Linked DNA regions of Homo sapiens. The protein of the gene in region 1 purifies or fractionates together with the protein of each later gene. This does not show direct contact. Each region holds a gene or a part of one and is shown in the gene's direction. Other genes may lie near its edges.

What was found.
Region 2: the proteins of AATK (region 1) and P4HA1 purify together in Homo sapiens (affinity purification with mass spectrometry; 2 studies listed by BioGRID and IntAct, with this or other methods). This does not show direct contact.
Region 3: the proteins of AATK (region 1) and ATAD3A purify together in Homo sapiens (affinity purification with mass spectrometry; 2 studies listed by BioGRID and IntAct, with this or other methods). This does not show direct contact.

What each region holds. Positions count from the first base shown.
Region 1 is NC_000017.11:81,128,208-81,135,229, reverse strand, and holds part of AATK (serine/threonine-protein kinase LMTK1), read left to right. Parts: exon of another isoform or gene 1-728; coding exon 729-862; intron 863-1,921; exon of another isoform or gene 1,922-2,034; intron 2,035-2,935; exon of another isoform or gene 2,936-3,185; intron 3,186-3,275; exon of another isoform or gene 3,276-3,328; intron 3,329-4,024; coding exon 4,025-4,169; intron 4,170-5,608; exon of another isoform or gene 5,609-6,072; intron 6,073-6,680; coding exon 6,681-6,760; intron 6,761-7,022. UniProt on the Homo sapiens protein: May be involved in neuronal differentiation.
Region 2 is NC_000010.11:73,065,845-73,072,866, reverse strand, and holds part of P4HA1 (prolyl 4-hydroxylase subunit alpha-1 isoform 2 precursor), read left to right. Parts: intron 1-686; coding exon 687-838; intron 839-3,883; coding exon 3,884-4,021; intron 4,022-7,022. UniProt on the Homo sapiens protein: Catalyzes the post-translational formation of 4-hydroxyproline in -Xaa-Pro-Gly- sequences in collagens and other proteins.
Region 3 is NC_000001.11:1,522,162-1,529,183, forward strand, and holds part of ATAD3A (ATPase family AAA domain-containing protein 3A), read left to right. Parts: intron 1-582; coding exon 583-738; intron 739-1,349; coding exon 1,350-1,406; intron 1,407-1,677; coding exon 1,678-1,803; intron 1,804-2,111; coding exon 2,112-2,236; intron 2,237-3,078; coding exon 3,079-3,130; intron 3,131-4,299; coding exon 4,300-4,370; intron 4,371-4,999; coding exon of another isoform or gene 5,000-5,114; exon of another isoform or gene 5,115-5,521; intron 5,522-5,533; coding exon 5,534-5,701; intron 5,702-7,022. UniProt on the Homo sapiens protein: Essential for mitochondrial network organization, mitochondrial metabolism and cell growth at organism and cellular level. May play an important role in mitochondrial protein synthesis. May also participate in mitochondrial DNA replication.

The sequences.
Region 1 (7,022 bases):
TCAGCTCAATACTCCGAAGTTGGGAGGGATGCTGTACTGTCAGTTCCCCTCTGGGATGAGGGGCTCCATGGACCAGCAGCTGCAGAACGGGGTTTCCCCATGGTTCCCAGGACAGAAGCAGCACCAGAGGGGCCTGGCAGTGGGTTTGGCAAGGGGACGGATTCGAGGCAGCAGGTGGCACACGGGAGCCCTGCTGCCTGGCAGAGGCAGCACCACCTTCTCAGGGACAGTGAGGTCCCCGCACCTCAGAGGCTGGAAGGGCCTTGAGCCCCCGCTGTCCAGAGCCTGGTGTGTGGCCAGCAGATAGCAGCCAGCAACATGGTCTCCCGTGTTTGACAGAGTCCATGTTCCCTTCCCAGCCCCAGAGGGGCAAGGTGGGGTGACTGGGATCTGGGAGGGAGATGGGGGTCCCCCTGTAGCCCCTGAGACCCTGACCTCTCAGGGGTATCTGAACCCCAGAATTGGGAACTGGGCAGGCTCTGGTCACTCTGCCAACCCTATGTCCCCCTGGCGAAGCCAGGGTGGTGTCCAGTGGCTGGCTGCAGGACTGCAGGCTCTGGCCACCTCCTCGCCACACTGTGAGGTGTGGGGTCTGGGGTGAGAGGTCAGGGTGCTGAGGCCCAGCCTGGAATGCAGCAAGTCCAGGTGGGGCTGTGGAGCCCAGAGCAGGGGCAGGGGCCTGGCCGGCCCTCAGCCATGGCCACTCTCACCACACTGCTCTCCCGCAGACGGCGCCCCGCTCAGCGAGCTGTCCTGGCCATCCTCCCTCGCCGTGGTGGCTGTGTCTTTCTCCGGGCTCTTCGCCGTCATCGTCCTCATGCTGGCCTGCCTGTGCTGTAAGAAGGGCGGTATCGGGTTCAAGGTGAGGCCTGGGGGCCGCGGGAGCTGTCGTGGGATCCCGCAGGCAAGGCCTGTAGCGTCCACTTGACCCTGAGCTTCCCTCCTTCCTGGGGCCATCAAGGTGGCTGCTGGGTGGCCGTAGTTGCTGTGGGGCCACCTGGGGACCACGTGGACCCTGGCCCAGGGACTCCATAGCTCCTCCTCAGGGACCTGCCCCAGCTTCCTCGACTTTGAGGCCCTCTGTGGGGGGCGTGGTCTGACGCTCCCACTCCAGCCTGGGGTTGGGCCCGAGCACTCACGGAGGCTGAGGACAGCCTTGCAGGGGGCGTCGGGGGCTCTGGAGCTGGTGTGGGAGGGGGCTTGCCTCCCTAGAGGCCCGACTCCTGGTGGAGGAGCTGCCTCTGCAAGGGGCTCTCACGTCCCTCCGAATTCAATCTGCAAAGGGGAGTCCGGGCTGCCCAGACAAGCTTCCCGGCACAGGGACCTTCTTGCCAGTTGGAGTCACCTTGCGCGGGGTATCTTCTGCCTTCTGGAGGGGACGATGTGTGATGCTAGAGCCCAGCCTGCTGGTTAGGGAGCCCCGCCAAGGGTGAGGCCTGGCCTCACTAGGCTGCCCCTCTGGAGGCCAAGGCCCCTGGCCAAGGACAGGTGCCAAGCACTGCTCCTCCCCCTGCAAACCCCCAGCCCACCTCCAGCTGTAACTCTGAGCAGCAGGGAGGGCCAGGCAGAAGGAACCCCGGCCAGCATCGCCTCCCCCTCCCAGAGTCTCCATGGGTCCCATTCCTGCTGATGAGCAAATGACACCCTGGCCTGGACCTCTGGTGGTTCACACGCCCACGGGGGTCAGCCCCACCCCTGGGCCAGAGGTCAGATTCCTACGCCAGGAGAAGTCAGGGAGGGAGGAGGGTGGGAGGAGGCATTCTGCAGCGCGCACAGCACCCTGTCTGTATCTCAGGGTGCCTTCCTACTAAGTGACCCATGACTCAGCTGGCGCCACCCCCATTTGGGAGACAGTCCCAGAGTCCTCCCTGCCCCTGGTATGTCATGACGCAGAATGGGCCAAGGAGCTGGCTCTGCCCACCTGTCCCGCTGGCCTGGCAGGTGACGGTGCTGGATGTGGCCTTTTTGCCTTTTCTAAAGGCCACATTTTCCAGCCCATTCAACCTTCCAGAGCCCTCTGAAGTGGCCACAGGCCCCATCAACCAGTGAGGAGCTGCGTGCCTGGGGGGCAAAGCTGTGGCCCCAGGCTGTGGGGTCTGCACTCCTGCCCAGAGCCCCCACCCTGCTCTGGGATGTACCCCTGACCCGCTGGCACCAGGGGCCAGGCCAGGCCGCGCAGGCGCCTTCCTGGGGATCCCGAGGCCAGAGCCTCAAGGTCTTGGCGGGAGCAGGAGTGGAGGTGGGGCCTGGGTGGGACGAGTGGGGCTATTGTATAAGTGGCCCCTCCTTGGGGCACTGTAAGAACAAGGCCCCAAACAAGGGCTGGCCATAGCTCCTCCTCCTGCGCCCTCCTCACCTCCTTGGGAACATGGTGCCCGGAACATTCCAGCACCAGTGTGCCCCTGGGAAGTCCTGCCTCCACACTGGGCTCCCTCCTGGGATTTGGGGACCTGCGCTGGGCTCCCTGGTGGGGAGCTGTGCTGAGGGAAGGGGCTGGGCAGGCCCCCAATGCTGACCCTGTGCTACCTGATTGCACGCTGTATCGGCAGGACCCGGCTGGCCCCCGGGCAGCAGGTAATGCCTGGAGCCCGGGCCCGACCCCAGGGAGAGACAGCATCTGTGTCCTGGGCCCCTCTACAAAGCCCAGATGGGTGGGGCCAGGCCGGGGCTGGGATTGGAGGGCCCAAGAGGGGGCTTCTGGGGTGGTCTTCTGGGTCCCGGGGAGGGGAAGTTGCCCACGCAGCACCTGCGTCCCCCATCCCTGAGTGGCTGTGTGCTCCGAAAGGGCAGGCTGGGCCTGGCCTGCGGGAATACCGACAGAGCCACCTGCCCCTCTCTTTGCAGCCCAGGGAAGGGAGGCGTCCCCAGGGTCACACGTCGTACTTGAGGAGCCCAGGCCTCCCCTCCCACTGCACCTGCCTGTCCTCGGACTCACCAGCCCGGGTGCTGGCCAGCATCCAGCTGGAAGTCCCTTGACTCCTCTGAGCCTCAGCTTCCCCACCAGGGCACTGGGGGTTGTGAGGAAGGACAGAAAGGCTGTACCAAGTGCTCAGGGATTGGGGCTGTCATTGTGTGCCTGGAGCAATTGCTTTCAGCTGGGCCCAGGACTTTGGAGACTTTGGCTCTCAGCGCAGGAATGTGCCCTGGACTTGGGGGTGGGGTATCCCCTATACAGGTGCAGCCTCTACATTTCAAAATAGCAGCCTGGCAGGGAGTGGCCCAGCCCTAGGCTGCACGGGGCCAGGCTCTTAAGGAGTTCTGGGAGCTCCGGAGGTGGTGTGGCCACCAGGTGAAGGTCCAAGGCTGCTGGGGCAGATGGCGGTGGCAGGTGGGCTGCCCAGGGTAAAGGTGGCCGGTTGGCTCTGGGCTCCCAGACATCCAGGAATGCTCCTTGTCCCGGCAGGGGTGGGGGCACTTAATTGCTTCTCCCACAGGACTGTGGGGCAGGGGGTGATGGAATTCCTGTCCCCGAAGCTGCGCCATGGGAGGGTGGGACCCCAGGCACAGCCCGGGGTGAGGGGCTGCTCGGGATGTGGGTGGCTGAGAGGTGCTGGGGGCTGATTCTGGATGGGCAGGGCCAGCTGGCCTGAGTGCCCTCACCTCTGTCCCTTGGTTCCCTGCCTCTAGACCCTCAGGCCCCAAGGTGGGGCTCAGCCTGGGCTGCCCGCCAGGGAGGGATGGGGGAACTGAGGCCAGGCTGAGGCGCTGGTGCCTACAGCTCATCGCGCCCTTTCTGGAGTCTGAGATGGGTCCTCTTGGCTCTGGGATCTGCCTCTGGCCCCTCATGGAACAACTGAGCCTCTGGTCGGGGGCGTGGGGGTCAGCAAGAGGAGACAGATGGAAGGGCAGTTAGCAGGGGTGCTGGGCCATTGGCCTGCAGGGGCGGTGGCTCCAACTCTGGGCCGAGCACCCCCTCCTGCCCTGCCCTGGGAGCTCGGCCCTGGAAGAAAGGGGCCTTTCCAGGCCCAGCCACACCCTTCCTTGACCTGCGAGAAGCCCCGCTCATGCCCGGCCCGGCCCGCAGGAGTTTGAGAATGCGGAGGGGGACGAGTACGCAGCCGACCTGGCGCAGGGCTCCCCGGCCACGGCAGCACAGAACGGGCCCGACGTGTACGTCCTGCCACTCACGGAGGTCTCCTTGCCCATGGCCAAGCAGCCTGGGCGCTCAGGTGAGGGCTGGGTGGGGAGATGGGGTGGCCTCCCTCCGGGGCCCAGGTGCTGGGCGTTGGGTGTGATCTGGGGAGACCGGAAGACTCAGCTCTGGAGTGGGGGCAGCACAGGGCTGGGAGTGGCCTGTGGGGTAGACGCAGTGTGCAGCCCTGGACTCCCTGTGGCTGCGTCACAGGCCGCACTGTGGGGCCAAAGGTGCATGTACCTCTTTCTCCTGGGCCTGGGGGCCGGCCAGGGGTTGGCAGGGTCCAGGACAGCCCTCGGCCTCCAGCCTCCCCTGCCCAAGGGGCTGCTATGCACAGGGACAGGGGTGGGCACGGGGCAGGGGTGGGCACTGGGGCAGGGGTGCGGGCTCTCTGGTCCTGGACATGGCCATGTGCTGGGGGCAGGGGCTCTTCTGCAGTCCAGGGATGCTTGACCCCAGATTCCTGCCCCCTTGAGCGCCAGCCCTTCAGGGACACGGGTTCCATTGTGCATGGCAGGAGGAGGGGCGCTGGTGGGGCCCGTGTGGGCGGGTGGTGAATTAGCCTTTCACTCAGGCTGCGAGGAGGGGCCGAGGGGTGGGGCTGACCCAGGAGTGCAGGTGCAGGCAGGGCCTCAGCCACAGCCTCATCTGCCCCCATCCTAGGGTCCTAGGCCGACCACTCACATGGGGCGGACGTGCTGGGGAGTTTGGGGGTGAATGGCCAGGCTTCAGGACCTCCCAGTTCTGTCTTGGAGCCTAGGTGGTGGGTGCGGGTCCCTCCAGAGCTATCAGATCTCAAGCCCCCTCCCAGGAAGCTTCCAGCCTGAGGCTTCCCCCATCACTGCCCACCCCCAGCTCCTCTGGGAACACAGAGGCAGGAGGGGTATCAGGCCAGTGGGAGGGGCCCCTGCCAGCCCTGTTGGGGCTCTGTTGGCACCAGGGCCTGTTACTGCGGTGCCATGCAGGCCACCTCACCTGCTCTGAGCCGTGCCTGGCTGGACCCTGAGAGCTGGCTATGAACTGTGCCTGGCTGGGCCCTGAGAGCCTAGCCTTCATCGTGGGCTGAGAGGCCCAAGGCACTGGTCTGGGACCTAGAGAGGGCCCCCAGCCCCCAGCTTTGGAGCCAAGGCCTCAACGCCTGTCCTACTCTGCCCCATCTCCTGGAGGACAGGTTCCCAGTTCGGCAGGAATCAGGGCTGGCACTTGAGCTCGAGTACATCTGTGGGCGGGCGCGGAGGACTGCAGCCACCCACTCAGAGCGTGAGGCCCTCGGACCTTCCCGGATGGCTGTGGGGGTCCCTGAGCCCTGTGCTGACCCTGCTGGGAGCTGCCAGGGACCATCCGAGGGGGTACTGCCCTTGGGTCCAGGGGCAGGTGTGTGCCTGGCCCCCGAAGATTCTCAGAGCCACCTCTGGAGGATTGCTGTGGGGACTGGGGTTGGCGAACAGGAGCCCGAAAGAAGGCACTGGTTACCTGTCTCTCTACTTTTGCAGCTCTGGTTTCAGTTTTCTGGGGGAGGAATGTGCTTCTAGGGAGGAGAGAGATTGGGGTGAGGTCAGAAAAGTAGCCCCAGAGGTCAGCGGGGAGAAACCTGGGCAATGGCCCCACCCGCTGGGGACCGCAGAGAAGGACGGCTGCCTGCTGCCTCCGGCAGTGCCCAGGGCCTCTGAACTGTCTCAGCACCCATGGTCAGGACCCCCACACTTGCTCAGGGACAGTGTGGGCCTGGGCGCCCCAGGGTGAGAGAGGGCCGCCCAGACAGGCTGGGCTCAGGACACAGCACCCGGTGGGCCCACACGCTCAATTCTGCCCTGCCCCGCCTCTACATTCTCTGGGTCTCCAGGCCCTGGAAGGAGCCCCCTCCCCCTGGGCTCTCCTGGCAGCCAGGCTCAGACCCAGGCCTGTCAGCCCTCTGGGCAGTTGACGTGGGAGCAGAATTCGGGGAATCCCTCGGGGCGTGGGCAGGCATGAGTGGGCTCTGCCAGCGCTGGCCCCTTCGTCCCGGGCCTCACTGACCCTTCCTCCCGCTGACCTCACCCGGCCTGGCCCTCGGGGAGAATGGGCCAGTGTGCTCCGTGCGGGGCCGTGCCAAGCAGCCCCCAACAAAGGAGCCTTTGGTGCGCCCGGCGTGGGATGCCAGCCTGCGGCAGGGTGGGGGTGGGCCGCTCCAGTGCCCTCTCTGTGCCGTGGCCCCAGCCTCTTGCTCAGCCACACTGCCTGCCTGGTGCAGCCCATGTGACGGGTCGAGCTCCGGGCCCTGCTGTCCCTGGCCGGGCTATCCCAGTGGCTTCAGGCACCTTCTCCAGACCTACCCAGAAAGATGCCCGGATGGATCCTGCAGCTCCGTGGCTTTTCTGGGAAGCAGCGGCCCCTGCTCTCAAGAGACCCTGGCTCCTGATGGTGGCCCCAAGGTTGCCAGCTGGTGCTAGGGACTCAGGACAGTTTCCCAGAAAAGGCCAAGCGGGCAGCCCCTCCAGGGGCCGGGTGAGGAAGCTGGGGGGTGCGGAGGCCACACTGGGTCCCTGAACCCCCTGCTTGGTTACAGTGCAGCTCCTCAAGTCCACAGACGTGGGCCGGCACAGCCTCCTGTACCTGAAGGAAATCGGCCGTGGCTGGTTCGGGAAGGTACGTGTCCCGCCTGGGAGGGAGGACTCCCGCCTGGGAGGCAGAAGGGACACAGGGCTGCAGACCTGCTCCTCCTAGGAGCCACCCCAGCCCCGACGGTCCCTTCTTCAGTCTCTGGGCCCTGCTGGACCCTTCCCCAGGGAGGTCCTCAGCATCTGGCTGCATCCCCTTCTCCCTAGGGGGTCCTGGGGTCAGAGGTACCTGGGGAGGGGCCCTGGGAGGGAGAGGAGCAGCCTCTTGCTCATGGCCTTCCCCTGACCTT
Region 2 (7,022 bases), on another chromosome or scaffold:
ATTGCTAATATCTTCTATCCTCTTCTAACCTCTTAGTCAAGCCACCTGCTGCAGCAATTTTCCAATTCTACTTATCCTTTACTCCCATGGTTCCATTGTAGAGATTATAGTGATGGTAGCGTTAGTGTTATTTAATTGATACAGTTTTTCTCAAATATGAATTTATTTTTAATTGACTCATGTTCATAGTTAATCCTGACCTGAGAATTCCTGTCTTTTATTTAATGAGTAGCTAAGTGTTCAGTTTTTCATTTTAAGATACAGTTTCTAGAAACTGGATGTAAAAATTTAGTATAAGTTGATTTAAATGAACATGTAATTGAATTTGGGTTGGGCTAATTTGTAGTTTGTAATAATCAGTTATTTGGCCCTGGGACCTAAGTCTAAAATTTTTAGACTTTTACTGGAGGGATTCATTCACAACTTTTACTAAGACAGGGAGGTTCCATTTACTGTAACCATTTGGGAGAAACAAAATTAAAACAAAAAGTCCTATAGTTGTATTGATTCTGCCAAGAGGATGTCGCTTTTTAAAGAGACCGAGACCGTATACTTTTACTTTAAAAAGAAACTACAGATATAGTTGAACTCAAAAACTTCTAGTCATTTTTTTTCTGAGCGTTTCATTAAATTGTGTTTTTCCCTATGAAATATAAATATTCAGTTTTTATGTTTTACATCTGTAGATGGGCAGAGAAGTTAGATCGGCTAACTAGTACAGCGACAAAAGATCCAGAAGGATTTGTTGGGCATCCAGTAAATGCATTCAAATTAATGAAACGTCTGAATACTGAGTGGAGTGAGTTGGAGAATCTGGTCCTTAAGGATATGTCAGATGGTAAGTCTGAAGAGATTCCTGAGTAAGGTAATATTGCCACCATATGTAGAAATAATAAAATTAATGATAAATTCAGTTCCCAGGAAACCAGTTCAGTTCAGTGTTGTAACTGGATTATGCCTGGGTGCATTTGGTTTGAATAGAGTTAATTTAGTCAAAATCCTGAATTCTTTGATTAAAAAAGAAGTAATTTCTTTTTTTGTTGACTTGTTTTGAAATCTGCAAAAGTGAATAGATTATTTGGCATATAGCTTCATTTCTGAGGGTAATCATTTTTATTTTAGGATTACCTTCAAACTTTAAAAATTTATGTCTTTATCTGCAATCAATTTAAAAAAATGTTGGGAGTGTTACTATAAAGAGAAGTATTAGCTGTGTTCTATCTAGTATTTTGAAGTTTAGAATTAGTTTGCTCAATGTGGACAATCAAACTGAGGCTGCAAACAGTAAAAATGAGTAAGTGATACAATACAATTTGTAGTTGGAGCATTGAAATGTTTTAGATACTTTAATAACAGATGTAGAAGACTAAATCTGGACTTTATTAAGGAGGTAAAGGGATTATGCCTCGCCCCCCGCCGCCCCTGCCCTGCCCCGCCAAGAAAAGAAGAAGAGAGAGACGGAAAAGAGCTGAGCTAGTTGTGTAGATAAAATACTCCAAGGGTACTTACCAGTGTTTGTAAGCAGTGAAGTAAACTTATTATGCACAGGGATCAGGAAGCCTTGAAAAGAAAAATATGGCAAGTACTTGTGAATACTTCTTTACTGTGAGAGGGAAATGCCTGTGATTATTTTCTGTACTGTATAACACCTTGGGAACTTTTTTTTTTTTTTTTGGAGACAGGGTCTCACTGTCTAACTGTTGCCCAGGCTGGAGTACAGTGGCACAATGGTGGCTCACTGCAGCTTTGAACTCCTGGGCTCAAGCAATCCTCCCACCTCAGCCTCCTCAGTAGCTAGCACTACAAGCATAGACCACCACGCCAGGCCAATTTAAAAATTTTTCTTTCTTAGAAACAAGGTCTTGCTATGTTGCCCAGGCTGATCTCAAATTCTTGGCCTCATGTGATCCTTCCACCTCAGCCTCCCACAGCGCTAGGGATTACACGCGTGAGCCATGGTTCCTGGCCCCTGAACCATTTTTTAAAGGAAATCGATATATTTATTCTCAAGTAATGAACTAAGTTGTTTTATAATGTGAACCTTGGCACTTTGTTGTTTTAATCTGTAGTAGTCATTCTATAATGCTATGAGAGAGTATATATATTTTAATTTTTCTTAGAATTTTGTTTGTAGCATAAGAGATATTATAGCCTTCTATAAAACTTATAAAACTTGCTTGTAAAATTCCATATAGAGATTGCAACTGAGAGTTGGTCGTAAAACTAAAAATATTGTTGGGAACAGAGCAGGTCAAAACTCCCATGATTGATCTAATAATGGAATTATACTGGTAAAAAGCCACTGCACTTCAGCCTGGGCAACATGGCAAGACTCTGTCTCTAAAAAGAGACAAAACAGCATAAAAATATGCTTGATATAAACTCTAGCCCTCTTCTAGTTATTTGTTCATTTGTACATTTTCATTTCACGCCTGTAATCCTAGTAGTTTGGGAGGCTGAGGCTGGCAGATCACTTGAGGTCAGGAGTTCGAGAGGAGCTTAGTCAACATGGTGAAAACCCGTCTCTACTAAAAATATAAAAGTTAGCCGGGCCTGGTGGTGGGCACCTTTAATCCCAGCTAGTCGGGAGGCTGAGGCAGGAGAATTGCTTGAACCGGGAGTTGGAGGTTGCCATGAGCCAAGATTGCACTGCTGCATTCCAGCCTGGGTGACAGAGCGAGACTCCATCTCAAAAAAAAAAAAAAAAAAAAAAAAAAAAAAAAAGGCCTGGTCTCTTGCTGTTCAAAATACGTAGCTGGCTGGACACAGTTGCTCATGCCTGTAATCCCAGCACTTTGGGAGACCAAGGCAGGTGGATCGTTTGAGACCAGGAGTTGGAGACCAGCCTGGGCAACACGGTGAAACCCCGTCTCTACTAGAAATACAAAAATTAGCCAGGTGTGGTGGCACATGCCTGTAATCCCAGCTACTGGGAGGCTGAGGCAAGATAATTGCTTGAACCTGGGAGGTGGAGGTTGCAGTAAGCTGAGATCATGCCACTGCCACTGCTCTCCAGCCTGGATGACAGAGTGAGACTGTCTCAAAAAAAAAAAAACAAAACAGTTGATTATAAGTTAATGAGAAGAGAGGGAAGTCTCATACCTAACTTTTATTCACAAGTAATGATACTGATATTAAAATTTTAAACCAATTTTTTATTTCTTAAGGAGTGTTTAGCATTCATTCTTCTTGGGGTTATATAGTTATCAGTAATTGGTTTGTTTGATTTTTGCATACTTTATATAAATCCTCTAAGATTAGGTTTATATATTGTAAATTTTGGTTGATCAACGTCATGTTTGATAATTAAACTGATTTAAATATATTTTAGTAAACTAGCTTTGCTGTTGATCTTAAATATATAGTTAATATCTCTTCCTTCTCCTTGAAGAATTCCACCAAACTTTATATATTTACATATTTATATAATGTGTAATACATGGAAGAAAAAAACAACTTTAAGAGCACATATTTTACTTACCATCTGTTATCTGGAAGTATAATTGATTGTCAATGAATGTCATTTCAGACCCATAAATGTGTTCATTTCTCAAACTTAGTGGATGCACTTTGTTTTCTTGCTGTGTTATATAACTAAAAACTCATAACTATTATGTTAGGTGATCTTTACCTGCTAATACAGATACAATTTATATAACAGCGTCACAGTCCTTAAGCAACACTAGGCTTTTGGAAGATTGAACAAGTTAGAAGTATGCCAAGTCTTATTCAGTGTATTTAATTTTTTCTTGTTGAGTATGTAGAACTTTTCATGGTGTGGTAGAAAATAATAAAATAGATTTTGAACAATCCTTATTAAGTCTCTTTATGGGAAGTTTATGAGGTTCTACAGTTTTTTTTTCTTTGATTTATCTATTTCAAGGCTTTATCTCTAACCTAACCATTCAGAGACAGTACTTTCCTAATGATGAAGATCAGGTTGGGGCAGCCAAAGCTCTGTTACGTCTCCAGGATACCTACAATTTGGATACAGATACCATCTCAAAGGGTAATCTTCCAGGTAAGATCATTCTTCCATTCTATAAAATACCTATCACCTAGCTTCTCTGTTGAGTCCATTAACACAATGTTAGTATAAAAAAGACTTGCATTTTAAGATTTTAAATTGTAGTTTGTTTCATAGCCTTCGAAGACTAAAGAATCACCTTCCCTTTCTCTTAGGGCTTAATAGTTACGGGTATGCTTCTAGCTTCTAGCTTGTTACTCTGAAAGCTTGTATTGATAGAGACTAACTTAAGTAGGGAATTTTAGTGTGTAAGGAAAAGAAACTATCATTTCACCAAATGTTTTTATTCAGAACACCTAATACTATTTGAAAGCTTTGTATGTAAAGCTATAAGGGATTGATAGTCAAAGTTTATATGTTAAATAATTAAAAGCCAAGATGTTTTGGGTATCCACATATGTTTAAAGTGTTCCATAGTATGGAACATCCTACTTTCTGACCTATTTTTGGCAAAGTCCTCTTTTTAAGTTACAGTTGCTTTCATGATAATTTACTTTTGCCGTCCCTCACTTTTTCAAAGTTTGTGACTCATTACCACTACTATCTCCTGTTATTGTCAGCTGCAGAAATAAAATATGTTGTCTGTGTCTTCACATTGAAATTGATTTTCTCCGTAAGAAAAAATCACTGGGATGAGTTGTTAATCAAAATGTTTTCTTGCTCATCTCCCTTTATTTGAGGTGAAGGTATCCGTTGGTAAAAACTAAACATGGTATAATAGTAAATAAAATTTCTGTTAAGCTGGAATATAATTCCATTAATTTGAACTTCCAAAAATGTACAAATTTGCAAATTTTCAGTTTCTACTAATATTATACATTATAACGCTTTTGATAAGATTATAACCTTATTTTTAAAATTGGTTTCAGGTTTTCATAGATATTAAATACTTAATATGTGCCAGCTATTATGTTAGGTACTGGGGACACATAATGAACAAGACATACACTACCCTCGCCATTAGGGTATTTAACATTCTTACAGTATAGTAAGATGAGTGCTTGGATGGGAGAAATTCAGGATACCATATGAGCACATCAAAAGAAACCTATTGCTGGACCTCATAAGGGATGTAAAGGAAGAATTCCTGGAAGATACACATTAAAAAAATTGAGATCTAATGGACCAGGAATTAGCCAGAAAAATGGGGGAGAGGGAGACAGGAGTGGGTGTGGGAAAAGTGTTTCAGACAGAGGGAACATGTAGAAAGGTCAAAAGGAGAGAGCATATCATATTCAGATAACTAACATGTAGTTTGTATGGCTTAATGTAGAGTTCAAGAGGTGAACGCACCAGGTGGATATGGGGGTTTGGCTTTGTGAGAGTAGTGAGAGCTGAGACTAGAGAGGTAAGCAGAAGCCATCTCTTGGAGAGCTTTGTAAGCCATGTGGAAGAGATTGAACTGTCCTGAGTGCAGTGCGGAGCTATTAAAAAGTTTGTAAGGGAAATTTATGATTTTTCCTTTTAGAAAACCATTCTGGCTGCCGAATGGAGATTGGGTTGGGGCCAAGGGACGAAGAACCAGGGAGGAGGCTGTTGCAAATATTTAAGTAAGAGGTGGTAGTGGATAGATTATCAAGCTACTTATTAGAGTAGAATAGTAGAATTTGATGATGTACTTGATAGGAATTTCTGGCTTCATCAACTGGATAGATTCCATTTAACAAAATAGGGCTGGCATGGTGGCTCATGCCTGTAATCCCAGCACTTTGGGAGGCTAAGGTGGAAAGGATCCCTTGAGGGTAGGAGTTCAAGACCAGCCTGGGCAGCATAGCAATTCCCTGACTCTACAAAAAAATGAAAACTTAGCTGGGTGTTGTGGTGCTTGCTTGTAGTCCTAGCTATTTGGGAGGCTGAGGTGGGATGTATTCACACTGCTATGAAGAAATACCCAAGACTGGGTAAGTTATTTTAAAAAAGAGGTTTAATTGACTCACAGTTCCGCATGGCTACGGATGTCTTAGGAAACTCACAATCATGGCAGAAGGCACTTCTTCACAGGGTGGCAGGAAAGAGAATGAGGGCCAGCAGGGGAAATGCCAGGTGCTTATAAAACCATCCTATCTCATGAGAACTCACTGTCACAAGAACAGCATGGGGGAACTGCCCCCATGATGCAGTTATCTCCACCTTGTCCCGCCCTTGATAGGTGGGGATTATTAAAATTCAAGGTGATATTTGGGTGTGAACACAGAGCCAAACCATATCACGGGAGGATCACTTGAGCCCAGGAGTTCAAGGCTGCAGTGAGCTGTGATCACGCCACTACACTCCAACCTGGGCAACAGAGTGAGACCCCTATCTCAAAAAACAAAAAGCAAAAAAGAAAACATCCCACCTCAGCCTCCCAAATGTGTGGTGGTGGGTAATAAATGTTATTTAGATTACTATATGTGTTTTGTTTAAAAAATGATTATATTCCCATCAAAATGGTCCTGAATATTATTTAACCCTGATTTCACTGTGTTTAGTCTTAGGGGCAATATTCATTCTTTCTCAGGTGCTTTTTATCTCCTTGTTGACTTTTTTCCTCTTTTATCACAGTTTTGGGCTAGTTCTTATTGACTTTTCTTTCAGGCAAATTCCTTATAAGTAGAATAACTGAAATTTCCTAATCACATTATACCCTATAAGTGGTAAAAATAATAGCATGAATACTAGCATAAGAGTTTTTAGGCTCCCCCAACCCAGATTATTTTCTGTTGTTAATAGTCAAATATCACAAATGTGTTCGAAGGCTTCTTGTGCACCTTCCCTTGTTTAGAGGTAATGACTATTCTGAACTTGGTGCGTATCCTGTCATCTTTTTATACTTTATCATATATATTTTCCATTGTATTGTGTTTTTAAATTTTATGTCAATAGTACATCATACTCTATGTATCTTTCTACAACCTTTTTTTAACCTAATATTTTCAGTAAATTTATCTGTGTTGATCAGATTCATCTAACTGCTAATGTGGTATTGTATAACATTATTTATTCATTCTTCTGT
Region 3 (7,022 bases), on another chromosome or scaffold:
CCCAAGTAGATGGGATTACAGGCATGTGCCACCATGGCCAGCTAATTTTTTGTATTTTTAGTAGAGACGGGGTTTCTCCATGTGGGTTAGGCTGGTCTTGAACTCTTGACCTCAGGTGATCCACCTGCCTCAGCCTCCCAAAGTGCTGGGATTACAGACCTGAGCTACTGTGCCCAGCCAGCCTAATTGATTTTTAAAACGAGTTAGAGATTTTGGGTTAGTCTTGTTTTCCAGGAATAAAGTACCATTTTTAGTGGCCAAGAATGTACCAGAGGGTGTGGCCCTGTGACATCCGGCTGGGTCTGTCCAGGGCCCCGCTCAGCGACCGAGGCTTTCTAGGATTTATGCTGCCAGTTGCAGAGAAAATGGCCCTGAGTGAGGGCGCTGTGACTGCCCCACCTGCCTCCTGTAACCGCGTGGCTGTGGGATTCGGGGCCGGGAATTCGCGTTCCTGTGGGGCCAGTGCACGGCCCTGTGCTTCTCCCTCGGGCGGAGAGAGGGTGGGGGCAGCCCCGTGCGTCTCCTGCTCTAAGAGGGAGGGACGGTGGGGGCCGGTGCGCCAGTGCGGTGTCTCTGCTGCAGGTGGCTGGGCTGACGCTGCTGGCTGTTGGGGTCTACTCAGCCAAGAATGCCACGCTTGTCGCCGGCCGCTTCATCGAGGCTCGGCTGGGGAAGCCGTCCCTAGTGAGGGAGACGTCCCGCATCACGGTGCTTGAGGCGCTGCGGCACCCCATCCAGGTAGCAGCGCAGGCCTGGCCCTCCCTGAGTGCAGTTCCTGGCTGAGTCCCTTCTGCCCCACGAGCACAGCCCACGCACACCCTCCCGTCCCTTCCCTTTCCCCGGATAACGGGCACCCGCACACTGCTTCACGGGTGGGTTTTCCTGTCTGGCGCTGTACCTTAGGGGTCTGCATCAGTGAGACCCTTCCCCTGTCTGCCTCGGTGTCCCCTGCTCAGGGCTCTTGATGGGGCCTGGGAGCACATCGGGGTCCTTGCAAGACCCGGGACTTGGGTGTGCGGCCGTCTATCAGGGAAGCTGCTACAGGCCACGGCGTCTGGTGGCCTCCCTGGGGAGCCGCGCCGCTCGCCGCCCCCGAGGTGCCTGCTCTCCACAGGTCACTGGGTAGGTGGTTAAGAAAATAAAAGCCAATAAGGAACCGGAAAATGCCCCTAATCCCAGCAATAGCCGCCTGGTCTCCGGGCGGGGCAGGGTTCCAGCTCCGGGCCGGTCCTGGCTGTGCTTTGGGGCAGCTCCGTTTCTGCGTGTTACCGAGCGTGTGTGTGCGCGTTGGTGGCTGTTCCGTGGCTGTGGCAGGTGACCCGATGGCGCTTCCCCTTCCCCTCCGGCAGGTCAGCCGGCGGCTCCTCAGTCGACCCCAGGACGCGCTGGAGGGTGTTGTGCTCAGTGTAAGTCGGTGTGCCTGGGACCGGGGAGGCGCAGGGAGGGGACCCTGGAGCTGGGCCGGGCTGTGGCCCTTGCTGGCGCTCGTGGTGGCACCCAGGAGCTTTTGGGTCCTGAGATGCGACTGCTTGGACCGTGCTGGGGATAGATAGGCTGCCCCTGAGGTGGGAGGCTTCCCGAGGAGCCGAGTCTGCACCCAGGCATTCCCGCAGCCCCTTCCCCTGAGGCTTCCATGGGTGCACAGTGTCTCCTCCAAACCCCCGTCTTCCCCGGCAGCCCAGCCTGGAAGCACGGGTGCGCGACATCGCCATAGCAACAAGGAACACCAAGAAGAACCGCAGCCTGTACAGGAACATCCTGATGTACGGGCCACCAGGCACCGGGAAGACGCTGTTTGCCAAGGTGAGAGCGCCTGGCTGAACAGGTGGGCCAGGGGCCGCTGGGGTCTCACCTGCCTGCAGGTGTCTGGGGGGCTCAGCTGCCTGGGGAATGGACCCCCCTTAGGCCTTTGCCCACCCTCGTGTAGGCTCAGGGTGCTGGTGTGGGCAGCAGCGCCTCCCATCTTCCAGGCGGGGGACGTCTCCTGTCTGGCAGGCTGTGGCTTCCAGGCAGGGACGCTGGGCAGAGCCTCCACACTCCGGGTGGAGTGTGCAGGCTTTGCAGAGGCGGAGGGAACATCTGCTCTGTCTCCCCTCACTCTTCCTGTCCAGAAACTCGCCCTGCACTCAGGCATGGACTACGCCATCATGACAGGCGGGGACGTGGCCCCCATGGGGCGGGAAGGCGTGACCGCCATGCACAAGCTCTTTGACTGGGCCAATACCAGCCGGCGCGGGTGAGACGTCCCCACAGCATGCACCAGGCCCTTGGCTGCGGCCCAGCAGGCTGCCTTCTGGGAAGGGGGTCCAGGTGTCTCTTGGGGACCCTGTCTTTCTGCAGCTCTGTCCTTGTGGCCACGCAGGAGGCCCAGTGGAGGGTCCCTCGGAGGGAAAGTCCCCTGAGTGTGGACCCTGGTGGACACGAGGCCCCCAGCGTGTGGAGGCTGCCAGTGGGATACTTGGCTCAGGGCAGAAGGGAGGTGGGTGGGTGCAGGGGGAGAGGAGTCTTCACAGCTGCAGGGGAGGCTCCTCCACAGCCGCCCTCCCCCCAACACGCCTGCAGGTGGGCGTGGGCACTGGTTGCCTTTTCTAGAACCATTTGAAAGTTAGCTGAAGACAGCATGGCACACTCCCTTCAATAGGTCCCACAGTGACCCCGCGCAGGGCACAGCCCGGGCACCCTTGTGGCCTCGGCTGTCCTCGTTGGAACCACGATGCTCATGGTTGGCACCCTCCCCTCTGGCCTTTGACCTTTCACTTTAGAAGACCTGTCCCTGTCGTGGACTCTAAGCGGCCACCAGTGCTGCACTGGGCCGGGTGGGGGTGAAGCCTGTGGGGCGGAGTTCGTCGCCCCCGTGTGTGGTTGGTTTCCCACGGCCTTCTGAGGCTGGGCCGTGGTCAGCTGCCCAGAGGCCAGGCTGATCGGCTTCTGTCGAGTCCAGGACTTAGGGCTGCTGATGGGGCAGAGCCTGACCCCGTGGGGATCTGCCTGCTTGGCCTGCTCCTGCCGCGGCCGGACGCTGCTGTGGGCTGCTCCTGGTGTCACTCTCGCCCTGCTTGGCCTCCCTCTCGTTCACAGCCTCCTGCTCTTTGTGGATGAAGCGGACGCCTTCCTTCGGAAGCGAGCCACCGTGAGTGTCACTAAGCCTCTGGCCACAATGGGGTGGTGGGGTGGGCACAGCCGTCTGCCTGGGCCAGGCTGCAGCCCTCTGTTCAGTTTCTTTTTCTCTGTAAGCTTTGTGTGAAAAACAGCTTTTTTTTTTTTTTTTTTTGAGAAGAAATCTCGCTCTATCACCCAGGCTGGAGTGCAATGGCCCCATCTCGGCTCACTGCAAGCTCCACCTCCCAGGTTCACGCCATTCTCCCGCCTCAGCCTCCCAAGTAGCTGGGACTACAGGCTCCCGCCACCACACCTGGCTAATTTTTTGTGTTTTTAGCAGAGACGGGGTTTCACCGTGTTAGCCAGGATGGTCTCGATCTCCTGACCTCGTGATCCTCCCGCCTTGGCCTCCCAAAGTGCTGGGATTACAGGCGTGAGCCACCACGCCCAGCCTTTTAATTATCATTCTAAGACAGGGTCTCTGTCGCCCAGGCTGGAGTGCAGGGGCGATCACAGCTCACTGTTGCCTCGACCTCTGGAGCTCAAGCAATCCTCCTGCCTCAGCCGCCTGAGTAGCTGGGACTGCAGGGGCACAGTGGAATACCTGTCTAATTTTTTTGTAATTTTAGTAGAGATGGAGTTTCCTCACGTTGCCCAGACTGGGCTCAAACTTCTGAGCTAAAGAGATTTGCCTCCCTTGACGTTCTGAAGTGCTGGGATTACAGATGTGAGCCCCCGTGCCCGGTCAGGCTTTCTTTTCTTTTTCTTTTTTTTTTTTTTAAGGCAGAATTTTACTCTGTTGCCCACGCTGGAGTGCAGCGGTGCAATTTCAGCTCACTACAACCTCTGCCTCCCAGGTTTCAGTGATTCTCGTGCCTCAGCCTCCCACGTAGCTGGGACTACAGGTGCGCCACCACGCCTGGCTAATTTTTGTATTTTTAGTAGAGACGGGGTCTCACCATGTTGGCCAGGATGGTCTCAAACTCCTTACCTCGTGTGATCTGCCCGCCTCAGCCTCCCAAAATCCAGGTTACATTCGTGAGCCACCGCCCCTGGCCCTGGTCAGGCTTTTGAGAGTAGATCCATGAAAGTGTCGCCATGTCCCTGCTCCCTGCAGGAGGGAGGCCTGTGGGACTTTCTGCTGTGGCTGTTTACAAGGCTTTGCTCCTGGTGCCTAAGGCTGGAACCTTCTCTCTGCAGGAGAAGATAAGCGAGGACCTCAGGGCCACACTGAACGCCTTCCTGTACCGCACGGGCCAGCACAGCAACAAGTGAGGGAGCCCCTCGGGTCCTGGGCCCCCGGGCAGGGCTGTGCAGCCGTCGCCCTTGGTTCCCACCGAGGGACCTGAGGGGCCCTGGCTCACAGTGCTGGGCAGCTGCCGTGGCCTCAACATGCCCACCTCGGATGTCCCCTGGGAACGGCCCAGCTCGGGACAGCACGGGGTGTCACTGAGGAACATGCGGGGGCCTCCCGGGCAGAGCTGGGGTCAGTCCTGTCCTCACGGCCCTGTGCGCCGCCGCCCCAGCTTGCAGGTCCCTCTGCCCCTAGGTTTCTGCGGTCCTGTGCCTGCAAGGGAGGTGGTCTCATCGTGTGAGGCTCTGCTGGGTCTCCCTTGGAGGGTGTGTGTGCCCTGGGGTGGGAGATGGAGACAAGTTTGCTCCCACGGGAAGTTGGACACCAGCAGGTCCTGTGTGTCGGGGCGGAACCTGGGACCTTGGTCCCCCGCCCGGATGCTGGCCAAGGGTGCACCCTCCAGGCTTGGGGCCCACCCGACTTTGTGTGGCCTCTGTGGGCTGCCGCCCAGAGGTCCCCCATAGGGTGACCGCCCCATGGCCAGGCTCCCTAGTCCCTCCCAAGTCCCCTAATTTTGAGTTTTCTTGGTCTCCTGGGCCCCTCCAGCCCCAGTCACGTGTCACACGGAGGATCAAGTCCTGCTGGTCGGCCGTGGCTGACTCCTCAGGCACGTTGGGCTCCCAGGTCAGCTGCTGCCGGTGGATGCTCCCTGGAGCCCTGACTCGGGTCCTTCCCAGAGAGGCAAGGCTGGGGCCCTGCTGAGCCTCCAGTGAACCCGGGCCCCTGAGGTCCTGCTCCTGGCACGTGTGGGCGACTTCTCGACATGGACTCCGGGTCCCGAATCCCTGCTCCCAGCACAGCAGGGGTCAGGCAGCAGGAGAGAGTGGTGTTCCCGGCACTGCCTATCAGGCTGGGCGAGGGTCAGCGGGAAAGCACTATATGGAGGGAGAACAGAGGCCCAGGAAGCCAGGCCGGGGGACAGCTGGGTGCAGTGGGGCAGGTGGCCGACCAGGGCTGTGCCCGTGTCCTCGTGTTTCCCGCCACTTTAGGTTCTCCCTGTGGGGGCTGAGGAGGCCCCGTTCCCCTTGGTGCAGCTCGGCCGGCAGCCCCAGCATCCTCATCCTCATCCCCGCCCCGCAGGTTCATGCTGGTCCTGGCCAGCAACCAACCAGAGCAGTTCGACTGGGCCATCAATGACCGCATCAATGAGATGGTCCACTTCGACCTGCCAGGGCAGGAGGAACGGGAGCGCCTGGTGAGAATGTATTTTGACAAGTATGTTCTTAAGCCGGCCACAGAAGGAAAGCAGTAAGTGTCCCGCCCCACCAGCCCCCGTCCAGGGGCCCTCGCTCAGGGTCCACCCCGACCCACAGTCCACCATCACTTACAAACCTTTAACATTCCTTTTTTTTTTTTTTTTTTGAGACAAAGTCTCATTCTTGTCGCCCAGGCTGGAGTGCAGTGACACGATCTCAGCTGACTGCAACCTCTGCCTCCCGGGTTCAAACAATCCTCTTGCCTCAGCCTCCTGAGTAGCTGAGATTACAGGCGCCCACCACCATGCCTGGCTAATTTTTTTTTAATTTTTAGTAGAAATGGGGTTTTACCATGTTGGCCAGGTTCGTCTCAAACTCCTGACCTCAAGTGATTCACTCTCCTCAGCCTCCCAAAGTGCAGGGATTACAGATGTGAGCCACCGCGCCCGGCGTCTTTTCCATTCCTCTTCACTACGAGGAGGGCTGTGAGGAAATCTTGTGCTCGGCCACCCCCAGGCCCTGGCTGTGAGGGGAGGTGATACGGAGTGTTGCTCTGAGACCCCCGTGTCGGGATTCGAAGGAGTCTCTCCTCATGAGACCCCCGTGTCGGGACTGGAGGGAGAGGCTCCTCATGGTCCACTGCTGGCTTCTGGCCTGGCCTCCCTCCAGCTGCCACACCCGGCCCTGGAGCCTCGTGGTGTGGGGCACGGCTCTTGCTGCTCACGTGCCTTGAGGCTGTCAGGCTCCCTGTTGCTGGCGGTGGGTGCAGCAGGCACGGTGGGCAGAGCCCTCCAGGTGATGAGGGGCCCTGGCACCACACACCGGCTGCCTCGGGAACACTCCAGATGAGCAGAGGCTGCTCCACTTCTTGGCGTCCCCCGGGCCCCGGTTTCTGAGTCCTTCTGTGCACCTGACCCAAATCCCTGCTGTCGCCAGTGATGACAAAAGAGAGCCTGGTTGCCGCTGCCGCCTGCTCCATGCCAGCCCAGCTTTCCGGGCCTCAGTTTCCCTATGCCCTCCCCTTCCCTGGGCTCCCCCACCCCCATGGCTGCTCGTAGCCCTGGCACCATGACTTGGCTTCTGTGGCCTCCAGGCAGACGCTTTTGCTAGAAGTCGGGGCTCCGCCACTGCCAGCATAAAGGCCACCTGCCCTGCGGGTGCTGAGTGAGCAGCTGTGGGCAGGGCTGGTGTGAGGAGTGGTTGGGGCCATCTCCAGGCCCTGCAGCCACTCCCTGCTCAGTCCGGGCCTGGCCTGCAGCAGGGAGGATGTGGAGCTGGGCTGTCAGAAGTAGAGAGCCCCTCCAAAGAGGATGTTTGGCGTGGGTGTCGGCCTCGCTGCCTGTCTTCCGGCCTCCACCTCGTGTTGTGGGAGC